Linked DNA regions of Homo sapiens. The protein of the gene in region 2 interacts with the protein of the main gene of each other region in a pairwise test. Each region holds a gene or a part of one and is shown on either strand. Other genes may lie near its edges.

What was found. The genes of interacting proteins can lie anywhere in the genome.
Region 1: the proteins of NMT2 (region 2) and ACBD6 interact in binary tests that used the Homo sapiens proteins (3 or more experiments, as listed by UniProt).

The regions. Positions count from the first base shown.
Region 1 is NC_000001.11:180,289,553-180,296,580, forward strand, and holds part of ACBD6 (acyl-CoA-binding domain-containing protein 6), read right to left. Parts: intron 1-7,028. UniProt on the Homo sapiens protein: Binds long-chain acyl-coenzyme A molecules with a strong preference for unsaturated C18:1-CoA, lower affinity for unsaturated C20:4-CoA, and very weak affinity for saturated C16:0-CoA. Does not bind fatty acids. Plays a role in protein N-myristoylation.
Region 2 is NC_000010.11:15,109,667-15,116,694, forward strand, and holds part of NMT2 (glycylpeptide N-tetradecanoyltransferase 2), read right to left. Parts: intron 3,298-7,028; coding exon 3,130-3,297; intron 2,121-3,129; exon of another isoform or gene 1,862-2,120; intron 174-1,861; coding exon 36-173; intron 1-35.

The sequences.
Region 1 (7,028 bases), on a different chromosome or scaffold from region 2:
CACACATATACCCTCCAACCTAGTAATTCTACTTCTAGTTATATACTTTTGCATATGTTCTCCAGGAGATATTTGCAAGCATGTACACAGCAGACCCCAAATGTAAACAGCCCAAACGCTCATTAATGGTAACATATAAATAAAGTATTGATCACTTGTACAATGAAATCCTGTAGAACACTGGAAACTAATGAACTATAGCTTCACACAACATGGGTTTATCTCCAAAACATAATGTTGAAGGGAAAAAAACAAGTGAGAAGAATACATATGATATCATTTCATTTAAACAAAATTTTGCAAACCGGTAAAACTAAAGAATATGATTCAGACATACAAATATGTACTGAAACTACAAAGGAAATCATTAATTAATATAAAATTTGGGATAGTGGTAATCTCTCAAAGATTACCACTAGGGAAGGCCATATGATTGAGAGGCATGCACAGGAGGTTCAAAGATATTGGTGATGTTCTATTTCTTAAGCTAAGTAGTGGGTAAATTTTTAAAAGCTTTGTTTAAATTCTTCATATACATTTTATATACTCTTTTGCAGCATGATTATCACACAACACAGTGTGTGGGTTTTTGTTGTTGTTGTTGCTCATTTGTTTCAAGAGAAAGGGTATGGAGCTGAATTTCACGGACTTTTTGAGACAGGGTCTGGCTCTGTCTCCCAACCTGGAGTGCAGTGGCGAGATCATGGCTCACTGCAGCCTTGACCTTCTGGGCTCAAGCAAATCCTCCCACCTCAGCTTCCTGAGTAGTTATAACTATATAGGTGTGTGCTACCATGCTTGGCTCTCACTTTGGGAGTCTCACTTTGTTGCCCAGGCTGGTCTCAAACTACTAGGCTCAGGCAATCCTCCCGCCTTGGCCTCCCAAAGTGCTGGGATTACAGGCATACACCACTGCACCCGGCCCTATAGCCATTTTATTGAGCACATACTGTACCAGTCCAGTCAGGAATACAGGTAAGATTCCTGCTATTCAGAATGGATTGTAAATATGTAAACAACCAATTCTAACACAAAAGAATGAATAAGAAATGTGGCAGAAATACATACACTGCAAAGGCAGGGAGGAAGGAGGAGACTGAGGGATCAGGAAACACTACAAATTGGTAGTAAGATGTAAGATGAGCTTTGAAGGATCGAGCAAAATTTCTGAGAAGGAAAGGCATTGCAGAATGCGAAAATACCACTAGGAGAGGCATGACAAGGAATGCTGGAGAACTGTCTCTGCTGGCTCAGGGAAGCAGTACAAAGAGTTGAAAGTACAGAGGTTGGATTGAAGTCAAGTTATCTAGGGCCTTGAATCGGTCACACTAAGAAGTCTGAGTTTTGTCAAGTGATCCACAGGCATTTATGAGGAGTGGAGTGGCATAATTTGGCAAGCACCGATCTGATTTCTGTCCCTATAGTTTTGTCTTTTTCCAGAAATAGAAATCATATAGCATAGTCTTTTGTATCTGGTCTCTTTCACTTAGCATGTTGCTTTTGTGATCCATCCACATTGCTTCAAGTATCAGTTCTTTCCTTTTGATTGCTGAGTAGTATTCTACTGTATGCATGTATGCAGTCATCTGGGCTGCTTCCAATTTTTGGCATTATGAACAGGGATCTTACGAACAGTTGGGTAAAGGTCTTTGTGTTGTCCTGTTTTATGTTTTCACAGCTTGTGGGTAAATATCTAGAAGTAGAATTGCTGAGTCATATGGCAAGTGAATGTTTAACTTTCCAGGAAACTACCAAACTTTTCTAAAGTTTTCACTCACACCAATAAGTATAAATTCCAGTTCCTTTGCACCCTTACCAGCACTTTACTATTATTAAAAATATTTTTTAGCCATTCTAGTTAGGTCTATGGTGGCTTTTCATTGTGATTTCTAATCTGTACTTCCCTAATGTCTAACAATGAACATTTCTCATGTGCTTATCTGCCAACTATCTATCTTTGGTGATTTATCTGTTCAAATCTTTTGTTCATTTGTTAATAAGGTTGTCATTTTCTTATAAGAGGTCTTTATATGTTGTGGACACAAAATTTTTTTTTCCAAATATATGTTTTATAAATATTTTCTCCCAGTATATGACTTCTCATTTTTTTTAAGAGTATCTTGAAGAGTGGAATTTTTAAATTTTGATAAAGTGCAATTTATTTTTTCTTTTATAGTTTGTGCTTGTGTTCCATCTAAAAAAAACTTTGCCTACACCAAGATCACAAAGATATTCTTCTAGTTCTTTATCATTATTCCTCTTACATATACATCTAAGATCTTACCTTCCCAGTTAATTTTTGAGTAGGCTTCAGGCTCACCTTTTTGTTTTGTTTTGCATTTTGATGTCCAATTGTTACAGCTCTATACGTTGAAAAGGCTAGTCTTCCCTCCACTGAATTTTATGTTGGCATTTTTGTCAAAAATCAGCTGACCATTTGTGATTGGATCTATTTCTAGGTTATCTATCATGTTCCTTTGATCTATATACCTATTCTTATACCAATACAACATTGGCTTGATTTCTGTACTTTATAGTAAGTCCTGAAACCAGTGTGGGGCCTCCAACTTTATTCTTTTTCAAAGTTGTTTTGATTATTCTAGGTCCTTTGCTTTTCCATATAAATTTTAGAATCAACTTATAAGTTTTTACAAAGATCCTGCTGGGATTCTGATTGGGACCCCGCTGAATCTATGAATCAATTTGGAAAGAATGGACAGCTGAACAATACTGAGTCTTTTGATCCATGAACAATGGTATCTCTTTCCATTTAAATTTTCCTTAATTTCGATAATATTTAGGAATTATACACATACAAATCTTACTCTTATTTTGTTTGATGTATCCCTAAGAATTTCATGTTTTTGAGGCTACTGCAAATAATATCTTTTAAAAATTCAATTTACTGTAAGCATAAAGAAAAACAATTAAGATTTGTATACTATCCCTGGTGTTTTCGAATTTTAATTTTCAATTGTTCATTACTAGTATATAGGAATACTTTTCATGTTTGTATATTGATTTTACATCCTGTGAACTTGGTGAACTCACTTATTCTAGGTTTTTTTTTTTTAATAGATTCTTGGGGTCTTATACATAGATGGACACATCACCTACGAGAAAAGGAAGTTTTATTTCTTCTTTTTAAATCTATGTGGCTTTCATTTCTTTTTCTTGCCTTAATGCATTGGCTAGAACTTTTAATACAATGTTGGATCAAAGTGGAGAGAGTGGATATCTTTGTCCACAGTCTTAGAGGGAAAGTGTTCAGCCTTTCATCATCAAGGACGATATTAACTGTCGATTTTCTCAGGCTAAAGAAATTCCCTACTATTTCCTATTTCTATTTTGTTGTGAGTTTTTGTTGTTGTTGTTGTTTTAATCATGAAGGGAAGTTGAATTTTGTCAGCCTTTTCTACATAAATTGATAAAATCACATTTTGCTTTTTTGATCTGTTCATATGGTGAAATACTATGGTTCTCAATTGCCAAACAAACCTTGCATTCCTAGGATAAACACACTTGCACAAAATTTATTAACCTTTTTGTATTTACTAGGTTCAATTTGCTAACATCTTATTAAACATTTTTGCATCTATGTTCATAAGGAATACTGGCCTGTTGTTTTCTTTTCCTCTAAGGTCTTTGTCTGGATTTGGTTATCAGGGTAATTCTGGTTTCACAGAATGAGCTGGGCAGTGCTCCCTCCCCTTCTATTTTCTGGAAGTGTTTGTGTGTAGAATTTTTTTTTTTTTTTTTTTTTTGAGACAAAGTCTCACTCTGTTGCCCAGGCTGGAGTGCAATGGTGCAAATGGCATGATCTTGGCTCACTGCAACCTCTACCTCCTGGGTTCAAGCAATTCTCCTACCTCAGCCTCCTGAGTAGCTGAGATTACAGGCACCCACCACCACACCCAGCTAATTTTTGTATTTTTAGTAGAGACGGGGTTTTGCCACATTGGCCAGGCTAGTCTCAAACTCCTGACCTCAGGTGATCTGGCTGCCTCACCTCTCAAAGTGCTAGGATTATAGGCATGAGCCACTGTGCCTGGCCAATTTCATCCTTAAATACTCAGTAGAATTCACCAGTGAAGTAATCAAGGCCTGGAAATCTTGTGGGAAAGTTTCTAGCTACAAATTCAATCTCTTTTATAAATATAGAGCTATCCAGATTTTCTATTTTTTATTTTTGTTTTTTTTTAAGATGGAGTCAGGCTATGTTGCCCTAGCTAGATGTAGTGGCTATTCACAAGCATGATCATAGTGCAGTGCAGTGTTGAACTCCTGGCTCCAAGTGATCCTCTTCCCCAAGCCTCCCAGCTGGGACTAAAGGCATGCACTTCTATTTCCTTTTTTTTTTGAGATGAAGTCTGGCTCTGTTGCCCAGGCTGGAGTGCAGTGGCACGATCTTGGCTCAGTGAAATCTCCGCCTCCCGGGTTCAAGTGATTCTCCTGCTTCAGGCTCCCGAGCAGCTGGGATTACAGGTGCGCACCACCACATCTGGCTAATTTTTGTGTATGTAGTAGAGACAGGGTTTCACCATGTTGGCCAGGCTGATCTCGAACTCCTGACCTCAGGTGATCCGCCCGCCCCAGCCTCCCAAAGTGCTGGGATCACAGGTGTGAGCCACCACACCTGGCTTTCTATTTCTTTTTCAGAAAACTTTGGTAGTTTGTGTCTTTAAAAAAATTTGTCCTGGCCAGGTGCGGTGGCTCTTGCCTGTAATCCTAGCAGTAGCATTTTGGGAGGCCAAGGCAGGCAGATTGCCTGAGGTCAGGAGTTTGAGACCAGCCTGGGCAACATGGTGAAACCCTGTCTGTACTAAACTACAAAAATTAGCCGGGCATGGTGGCGCATTCCTATAATACCAGCTACTCCGGAGGCTGAGGCAGGAGAATCGCTTGAACCTGGGAGGTGGAGCCTGAAGTGTGAGCAGGCTGAGATCGCACCACTGCACTCCAGCCTGGGTGACTGAGACCCTGACTTAAAAAAATATATAATAATAATAATAATAAATTTGTCCATTTCATTTAAGTTATCTATTTCATTGGTATAAAATTGTGTATAATGTTTCCTTATTTGCTTTATAATATCTTTAGGATATGTACTGATATCCTTTCATTCCTGAAACTGGTAATTTGCCTTTTGTTTTTTTTTTTGGTGTCACATCTCACTTTGTTACTCAGGCTGGAGTGCGGTGGCACAATCATAACTCACTGCATCCTGGAACTCCTGGGCATGAGTGATCCTCCTGCCTCAGCCTCCTGAGTAGCTGGGACTTACAGGCTCAAACAACTATGCCTGGCATGTTTTAAAACATTTGTTGTAGAGATGGGGTCTTGCTATGTTGCCCAGGCTGGGTCTCGAACTCTTAGTCTCAAGTGATCCTTCTGCACTGGTCTCCCAAAGTGCTGGGATTACAGGTGTGAGCCACAGCATCCAGCCTGTTTCTTCTCTTTTTTTTCTTCCTTGGTCTGGCTAGAGGACTATGTTTTATTGATCTTTACAAACAACCAGTTTTTGATTTCACTGATTTTCTGTTTTCTGATTTTCTATTTCAATGATTTCTGCTCCGATCTTTATTGTTTCACACTTACTTTGGGCTTAATTTGCCCTTCTTTTTTTGAGATAGAAGCTTGGATCACTGATATGAAATCTTTCTTCTTTTCTAATAGTATTTAATTTCCTTTAAAGCACTGGTTTAGCTGCATCCTGCAATTTTTTTTTTTTTTTTTGAGGCGGAGTCTTGCTCTGTCGCCCAGGCTGAAGTGCAGTGGTGCAATCTTGGCTTGCTGCAACCTCTGCCTCCCTGGCCTGGCTTAAGCGATTCTCCTGCCTCAGCCTCCCAAGCATCCCACAAGTTTTGACAAGAGTGTTTTCATTTTCATTCAGTTCAAAATATTTTATATAGGCATAACTTATTTTATTGTGCTTAACTTTACTGTGCATCACAGATAATGCATTTTTTTTTTCAAATTAAAGATTTGTGGCAACTCTATATTTAAGCAAGTCTATCGGTGCCATTTTCCCAACAGCATTTGTTCATTTTGTGTCTCTGTGTCACACTGTGGGGATTCTCACAATATTTCAAACTTTTCATTATTGTTATTTCTGTTGTGAGGATCTATGATAAATGATCTTTGATGTTACTATTGTAATTTTTTGGGGGTGCCATGAACTGCACCCATATAATATGAATTTCATCAATCAATGTTTTATGTGTTCTGACTGTACCATGGAACAGCCAATCCCTCGTCTATCCCTCTCCTTGGGTCTCCCTATTCCCTGAGACACAATAATATTGAAATTAGGCCAATAATCCTACAATGAACTCCAATCCTTTTACTCAAGTAAAAGGAAGAGTCACACATCTCTTATTTTCAATCAAAAGCTAGAAATGATTAAGCTTAGTAATGAAGGCATGTCAAAAACCAACATAGGACAAAAGCTAGGCTTTTGTGCCAGTCAGCCAACTTGTGAATGCCAAATAAAAGTTCTTGAAGAAAATTAAAGCACTATTCCAGTGAACATACAAATGACAGGAAAGCAAAACAGCCTTATTGCTGATTTAGAAAAAGTCTGAGTGGTCTGGGTAGAAGATCAAACCAGCCACAACATCCCCTGAAGCCAAAGTCTAATCCACAGCAAGGCTCTGGCTCTTTCATTCTACGAAGACTGAAAGAGATGAAGAAACTGCAGAAGAAAAGTTAGGAGTTGGCAGAGGCTGACTCATGAGGTTGAAGGAAAGTTGTCTCCATAAAATAAAAGTGCAAGGTAAAGCAGTAAGTGCTGATGCAGAAGTGAGAGCAAGTTATCCAGAAGATCTAACTAAGATAAAGATAACTGATGAGGATGGCTATACTACACAACAGATTTTCTTTTTTTCTTTTCTATTAGACAGAGTTTCACTCTGTCGCCCAGGTTGGAGTGCAGTGTTGCGATCTTGGCTCCCTGCAACCTTTGCCTCCTGGGCTCAAGCGATTCTCGTACCTCAGCCTCCTGAGTAGGTGAGATTACTGGCCATGTG
Region 2 (7,028 bases):
GTTGAGTTTACAAGGGCTATATCCATTTCACTTACCTTTTCAGAATCTGTACCTGGACACCTCCAATTGTACAGGTAATACTGCAAATTGCCATCTCCTATACCAAACTTGAGTTTTTCCAAGAATGTCTTATTTTCCATCAAATCCAGTGCATTGAATACATCAAATCCTTTCTGCCAATTTAAAAAAGATTTAAAATTTAAAACAAAGGACTAGTGTTTTCTGTATTACATATCTCAGTTTAACAATTCTACTAATAGCTCGAATATGCATTTCTAATAGGATTTAACGTCCGTGATATATAGCATAGGTTAAGAATTCAGGGCCGGATGCTGTGGCTCATGCCTATAATCCCAGCACTTTGGTAGGCTGAGGTGGGTGGATCACTTGAGGTCAGGAGTTCGAGACCAGCCTGACCAACATGGCGAAACCCCATCTCTACTAAAAATAACAAAAATAAGCCAGATGTGGTGGCGCACACCTGCAGTCCCAGCTACTCAGGAGGCTGAGGCAGGAGAACTGCTTGAGCCTGGGAGGTAGAGGTGGCAGTGAGCCGAGATTGTGCCACGGCACTCCAGCCTGAGCGACAGAGTGAGACTTTTTTTTTTTCTTTCTTTAAAAAGAGGAAGAATTCAGTTGAAAATTGTCTTATAAAACTAGCAGTGTGGCTGGATGTGGTGGCTCACGCCTGTAATCCCAGCACTTTGGGAGGCCAAGGTGGGAGGCTCACTGGAGCCCAGGAATTTGAAACCAGCCTGGGCATAGGCTGTAGGTATAGGTGTAGGTGTAGGTACAGGACATTGTCTCTACAAAAATAAAAAGATTGACTCGGCATGGTGGTGTGTGCCTGTGGACCCAGCTACACAGGAGGCTGAGGCAGGATTGCATAAGCCGAAGAGGTCGAGGCTGCAGTGAGCTGTGATTGTGCCAGTGCACTTAAACCTGAGCAACAGAGTGAGCGCCTGTCTCAAAAAACAAACAAACTATAGTGAATCCAATGAAGTCAGCATGAAAATTCAGAAACGCTGAATCCCAAAAATGTTAAAAATGTAGTATGATGGCTGTCACTGGCATAAAATTACTTATGAAGATTTCAGAAAATATTTTATTTATGTTTTATTTATTTATTTTTAAATTTTTTTGAGATGGAGTCTCACTCTGTCATCCAGGCTGGAATACAGTGGCATGATGTCGGCTCACTGCAACCTCCACCTCCCAGATTTAAGCAATTCTCCTGCCTCAAACTTCCTAGTAGCTGGCATTACAGGTGTGCACCTCCATGCCCAGCTAATTTCTTTGTATTTTTAGTAGAGACCGGGTTTCACCGTGTTGGCCAGGCTGGTCTTGAACTCCGACCTCAAGTGATCCACCTGCCTTGGCCTTCCAAAGTGCTGGGATTACAGGCATGAGCCACTGCACCCAGCCTCGTTCTTGTTTTAGAAGGGAACAGTTGTCAAGATGGTTTCATCTCCAGGATTATTAATTATTAGCCTTTCTAAGTCCTACCTTGGCTGAAGCTATTGCCCAGGGACCAAAGTTGTAAAGACTTTAAATAGTATGCAGGCCGGGCGTGGTGGCTCACGCCTGTAATCCCCGCACTTTGGGAGGCCGCAGCAGGTGGATCACCTGAGGTCAGGAGTTCGAGACCAGCCGGGTCAATATGATGAAACCCTGTCTCTACTAAAAATACAAAAATTAGCCAGGTGTGGTGGCACACACCTATAGTCCCAGCTACTCTGGAGGCTGAGACAAGAGAATCACTTGAACATGGGAAGCAGAGGTTGCAGTGAGCCGAGACTGTGCCACTGCACTCCAGCCTGGGTAACACAGCAAGACTCATCTCAAAAAAAAAAAAAAAAAAAAAAGTATAAAAAAATAGTATGTTTGCTTTGGGCTGATAATGGGAAATATATTTATGTAAAATTTTAATGGTAAAAAATTAAATTTCTTTAAAATGTCAGACAATAATACTATGCAAAATGTGATATAGAAGAAGCACTTTTTATTTTTATTTCTCAGGGTTTTTACCTTAAATAACTAATTACTGGCCATATTTGGGAAGTGTTGAAAAAAAGCAGACAATCTGAGGATGATGTTGACTTGGGGATCCAAAGGCACAGGTAAGAGATTTTTATTTTATTTTATTTTAATTAATTAATTAATTTGAGACAGGGTCTCACTCTGTGGCCCAGGCTGGAATGCAATGGTGCAATCTCGGCTCACTGCAACCGCCAACTCCCAGGTTCAAGTAATCCTCTTGCCTCAGCCTCCCGAGTAGCTGGGATTACAGGTGTGTGCTATCACACCCTGCTAATTTTTGTATTTTTAGTAGAGACAGGGTTTCACCATGTAGACTGGCTACAATTAAATTTTGAATTTCATTCCTTTAATTTTAAAATTCAGAGACTATTTGGTTGAATAAAAAAATTGCTGCTAGTTATTCACTCAACAAAAATATTCACTCATGTATTAATATTTTCCTTATATTACTTCCTAAGATATGGGCTTTATATATATATATATATATATATATATATATATATATATATATTTTTTTTTTTTTTTTTTTTTTTTTTTTTTTTTTTGAGACAGTTTCTGTCACCCAGGCTGGAGTGCAGTGGTGCAATCTCAGCTCCATTGCAACCTCTGCCTCCCAGGTTCAAGCAATTCTCCTGCCTCAGCCTCCCGAGTAGCTGGGATTACAGGCACACACCACGAAGCCTGGCTAACTTTTGTATTTTTAGTAGAGACGAGGTTTCACCATATTAACCAGGCTGGTCTTAAACTCCTAACCTCAGGTGATCCACCCATCTCGGCCTCCCAAAGTGTTGGGATTACAAGCCTGAGCCACCATGCCCAGCCTTATATATTCTTATATAAGGATTAAACATTTATAATTTGTACATTTTGTCTTTTTTGTTAAACTGCCATAAAATTAATGATGAAAATAGCCTCTAAAGTTTCAAAAGAAACTCTTATCAAAATTCTTCCTTTGACTGATGATCAATAGTTTTTTTAAAGTCTCGCATAAATTCCACCTGTGTGGAAGAAAACACAGTAAGATGTCTTCTATAGTTTGGCACAGACATTTGGAGAACCAAACGGCGTGAACAGGAAGGAGTGGCTTACCGATTTAGCCAGGATGAGCGCGTCGCTCATGAGGTCCAGCAGGGGCGTCTCTGTGTGGATGTTGTAGAATGAGTAGGCGGCTTTGAGGCTCTTGTGAGCAGGGTGGTGCATCACCGTGGAGGGGAGCGTATAGAAGCTCAGGAAATCAGTCAGTTTACCGTTGGGGCTCTAGGAGCAAAAGTGCTGTCAGACAGAGATCTCCTTGAACCAACTGCATACGTGCATTTCCACTAACTCTGTTCTCTCCCTTGCCCCAGAGAACGAAAAGCAGTAAGTCACACTTCTTTCTCGGCAGTCCAATTTGGGGCCCCTTATATTGTGCTGTGTAGAGGCCAAGAAGGGCCTGGAGTTGGGACTTCAGCCTAAGTGCCCATTGGTGATTTGCACAAAGTTCTTAGGAAGCAGAATGTCATGCCTGTAATCCCAGCACTTTGGGAGGATGAGGCGTGTGGATCATGAGGTCAGGAGTTCGAGACCAGCCTGACCAACATGGTGAAACCCCATCTCTACTAAAGATATGAAAACTTAGCCAGGTGTGGTGGCGCACACCTGTAATCCCAGCTACTTGGGAGGCTGAGGCTGGAGAATCGCTTGAACCCCAGAGGCGGAGGTTGCAGTGAGCCAAGATTGTGTCACTGCACTCCAGCCTGGGCGACAGGATGAGACTCAAAAAAAAAAAAAAAAAAAAAAAAAAGAAAGAAAGATAGAAGCAGAATGTCCTAAAAGGAAAGCTTCCCTCAGGCTGACAAATGAGTCAATTCTTTAGACTAAGGGAACAGTGATAAAAGCAGATTCATTGTTTTTGCAGAAATAAAAGCTTTAAGGATTAGAGGGCTGCCTTCTCCAACTAAAAGATACTGTGTACTATCTCACACTGTCTTAGCACACAGAAAGAATTATATCAGGCCTAAGTAAGGTTGGGTAGAGTCTGGAAGCTGTTTGGAAGAGTTCGCAAGCTTGTGAAAGGTCTTACTACTGCACCAAAATATACACATGTGAACAACTGGAGAATTTTGCAGCTATCAAAAATAAGGGATACAATGGATGACATTCATTTCATCATCACTGGCAAAGCTTCCAATACAAGAAATTAGCCAGTATTGTTCGGGTTGTTGTAATTAGCTGTGGTGGCCTTGCTGACTTTTAGAATATGATGTGTTTGAATCGTGCGGCTGAAGAGGCTGGACCACACACATGCCACTGCTAGTATTTCTTTCAGCAGAAAAGGAAATTCCAGAAGGATGTATGCTTTGGTTTTCAAAGGCTTCCGAGTCATTAGACCTTTCTTCAGCCAGCAAGAAACTAAAGGGGTTAATCTACAGTGATTCCCTACTGCTCTATATTAGCAGCTCAGTATTGGAGATGAATTCAACCTTCAGGTTTAATAAGGATTTTAGATTCTTCTAAGAATTTCTCATATCCATCTCATACGCTGAATTACTGCAGGCACCTGCAGAACCTGATTAGGTTCCCCACCCCATTTTCATCATCTGCTTTCAGAAAACTACTTCTTCACATTCATATTGCTGGTAAAATTACTGTTTCCTCTCTTGCTGTTAAAATGACCAGAGAATCACCAACTGTTGGGGAAGAGTGGGATGATCTTTCCATTGTCCCTCACACCCAATCAATTGTAAAGACTGATAAAAAACAAAACAAAACAAAACAAAACAAAAAAACCCCGCTCACAACAAAACCCACCATGGCACCATGTCTAGATGGCTTATAAGCAACTTCTAACAACTTTCAAGGAACAAGTAATCCCTATTATTACATACACTGTTCCAGAGAAAAGAGAGGACAAGCTCTTCAGCTCATTCTAACTTTGGTATCAAGACAGGACAAGGACAGGGTAAGAAGGGGAAATTAATGGCCAACCTCAGTAGTGAGTATAGAAGATCCTAAGTAAAATATTAGCAAACTAGGGCTGGGCATGGTGGCTCATGCCTGTAATCTCAGCACTTGGGGAGGCCAAAGTGGGTGGATTTTCTGAGCTCAGAAGTTCGAGACCAGCCTGGCCAACGTGGTGAAACCCCGTCTCTACTAAAATACAAAACATTAGCAGGGTGTGGTGGCATGCGCCTGTAGTTCCAGCTACACAGGAGGCTGAGCACAAGAATTGCTTGAACCCAAGAGGCGGAGGTTGCAGTGAGCAGAGATTGCACCATTGTACTCCAGCCTGGGTGACAGAGCAAGACACTGTCTCCAAAAAAAATTAAAAAAAAAAATTGGGAAACTAAATCTAAAAACAGAGGTAGTCTCACACAAATGGAAACCAAAAGAATGTGTCACTAGCAGACATACCCTGAGACTGGCTAAAGGAATTTCTTCAAATAGAAAGGAAATAATAAAAGAAGGAATCTTGAAGCATCAGGAAGGAGGGAAGAATAATAGAGTAGAAATTTGGGCTACATATAATAAATTATGCTTCTCCTCAAGCATCATTATTAATCAGTGTTACAAATCATACTTGATGATTAAAACAAAAATCATAATACTGTCTGATATTTAAGACAACAATATTTAAAAATGAAAAAGGTAAAGTGACCTAAATAAAAGTAAGGTGACTCAAAGTAATAAATGTTGTTACCAATCGACTATAAGTCACATATATATATTGTAATACTCACATCAACCATCATAAAAACTATACAAATACACCCAAAGGTACTATAAATAAAACAGTATCCTAAAATATATTCAAGTAATCCACAGCAAGGCAAGAAAAAAGAAACAGAGGAACAAGAACCAGAAGAAACATAAAGAAACCAAATAATCAAATGGTAGACTTAAGCTCTACCATACCAATAATCACCTTTTATGTAAGTGGTCTAAATACACCAATCAAAAGAAACATCAGTAGTGTGGGTAAAGAAACATGACCCAGCTATAGGCTGTTTCCAAGAAACTCACTTCAAATTCAATAACATCAATAGTTTGAAAGTAAAAGGATGGAAAAAGTCCAAACAATTTTTAAAAGCAGGTCTGGTCACAGTAATATACAATAAAGTATACTCCAGAGCAAGGAAAATTATTAGAAAGAGAGGTATTACATTATGATAAAAAGATCAATCCACTAGGGAGACACAAAGACCCTAATATACATGTGAGTATCAAACAAGAGGCCCAGAAGAAATCAAGAAAAACTGACAGTGTTGGAAGGAGAAATAGACAAATCCACAATTACAGCTGGGGACTTCCATGCCCCTCTCATCAAGTGATAGAACTGCTAGACAGAAAATCAGCATGGAAACAGAAGAGCTGAATAACTCAATTAATCAACATGATGCAATTGCCATACAAAGAACACTCCACACAACCGTAGTGGTATACACGTTTCATGCACCCATGGAATATCCATCAAGACAGTCCATATCCCGAGTAATAAAACAAACCTCAAGAGCCTTAAAATAATCAAAACCATACAGTGTGTGTTCTTTAACCATAATTGAATCAAACTAGAAATCTGTAATAGGGAGACAACAGAAAATCTCTAAACACAGCAAAATTGAACAGCACAATTCTAAGTAGGGGTGGGCTAAAGAGGAAGCCTCAAACGAAACCAAAAAATACATAGACGTGAATGACAACGAAGATACAACATACCAAAATACGTCAGAAATAGCTAAAGCAGTGCAGAGAGGGAAACTGATAGAACTAAATGCTTACTAGTAACAGGGAAAGGTCTCAAGTCAGTAAGTTCTTCCCTCAAGGAACTAGAAAAGAAGAGCAAAATAAACCCAAAGCAAGCAGACAGAAGGAAACAATAAACACGAGGGTAGAAATCAATGACACTGAAAACAGGAAGACAACAGGGAATATCCAACAAAAGTCTGGTTCTCTGGGAAACAAATCAATAAAATGATACAAGTCTACCAATATGGACAAAAACAAAGAAA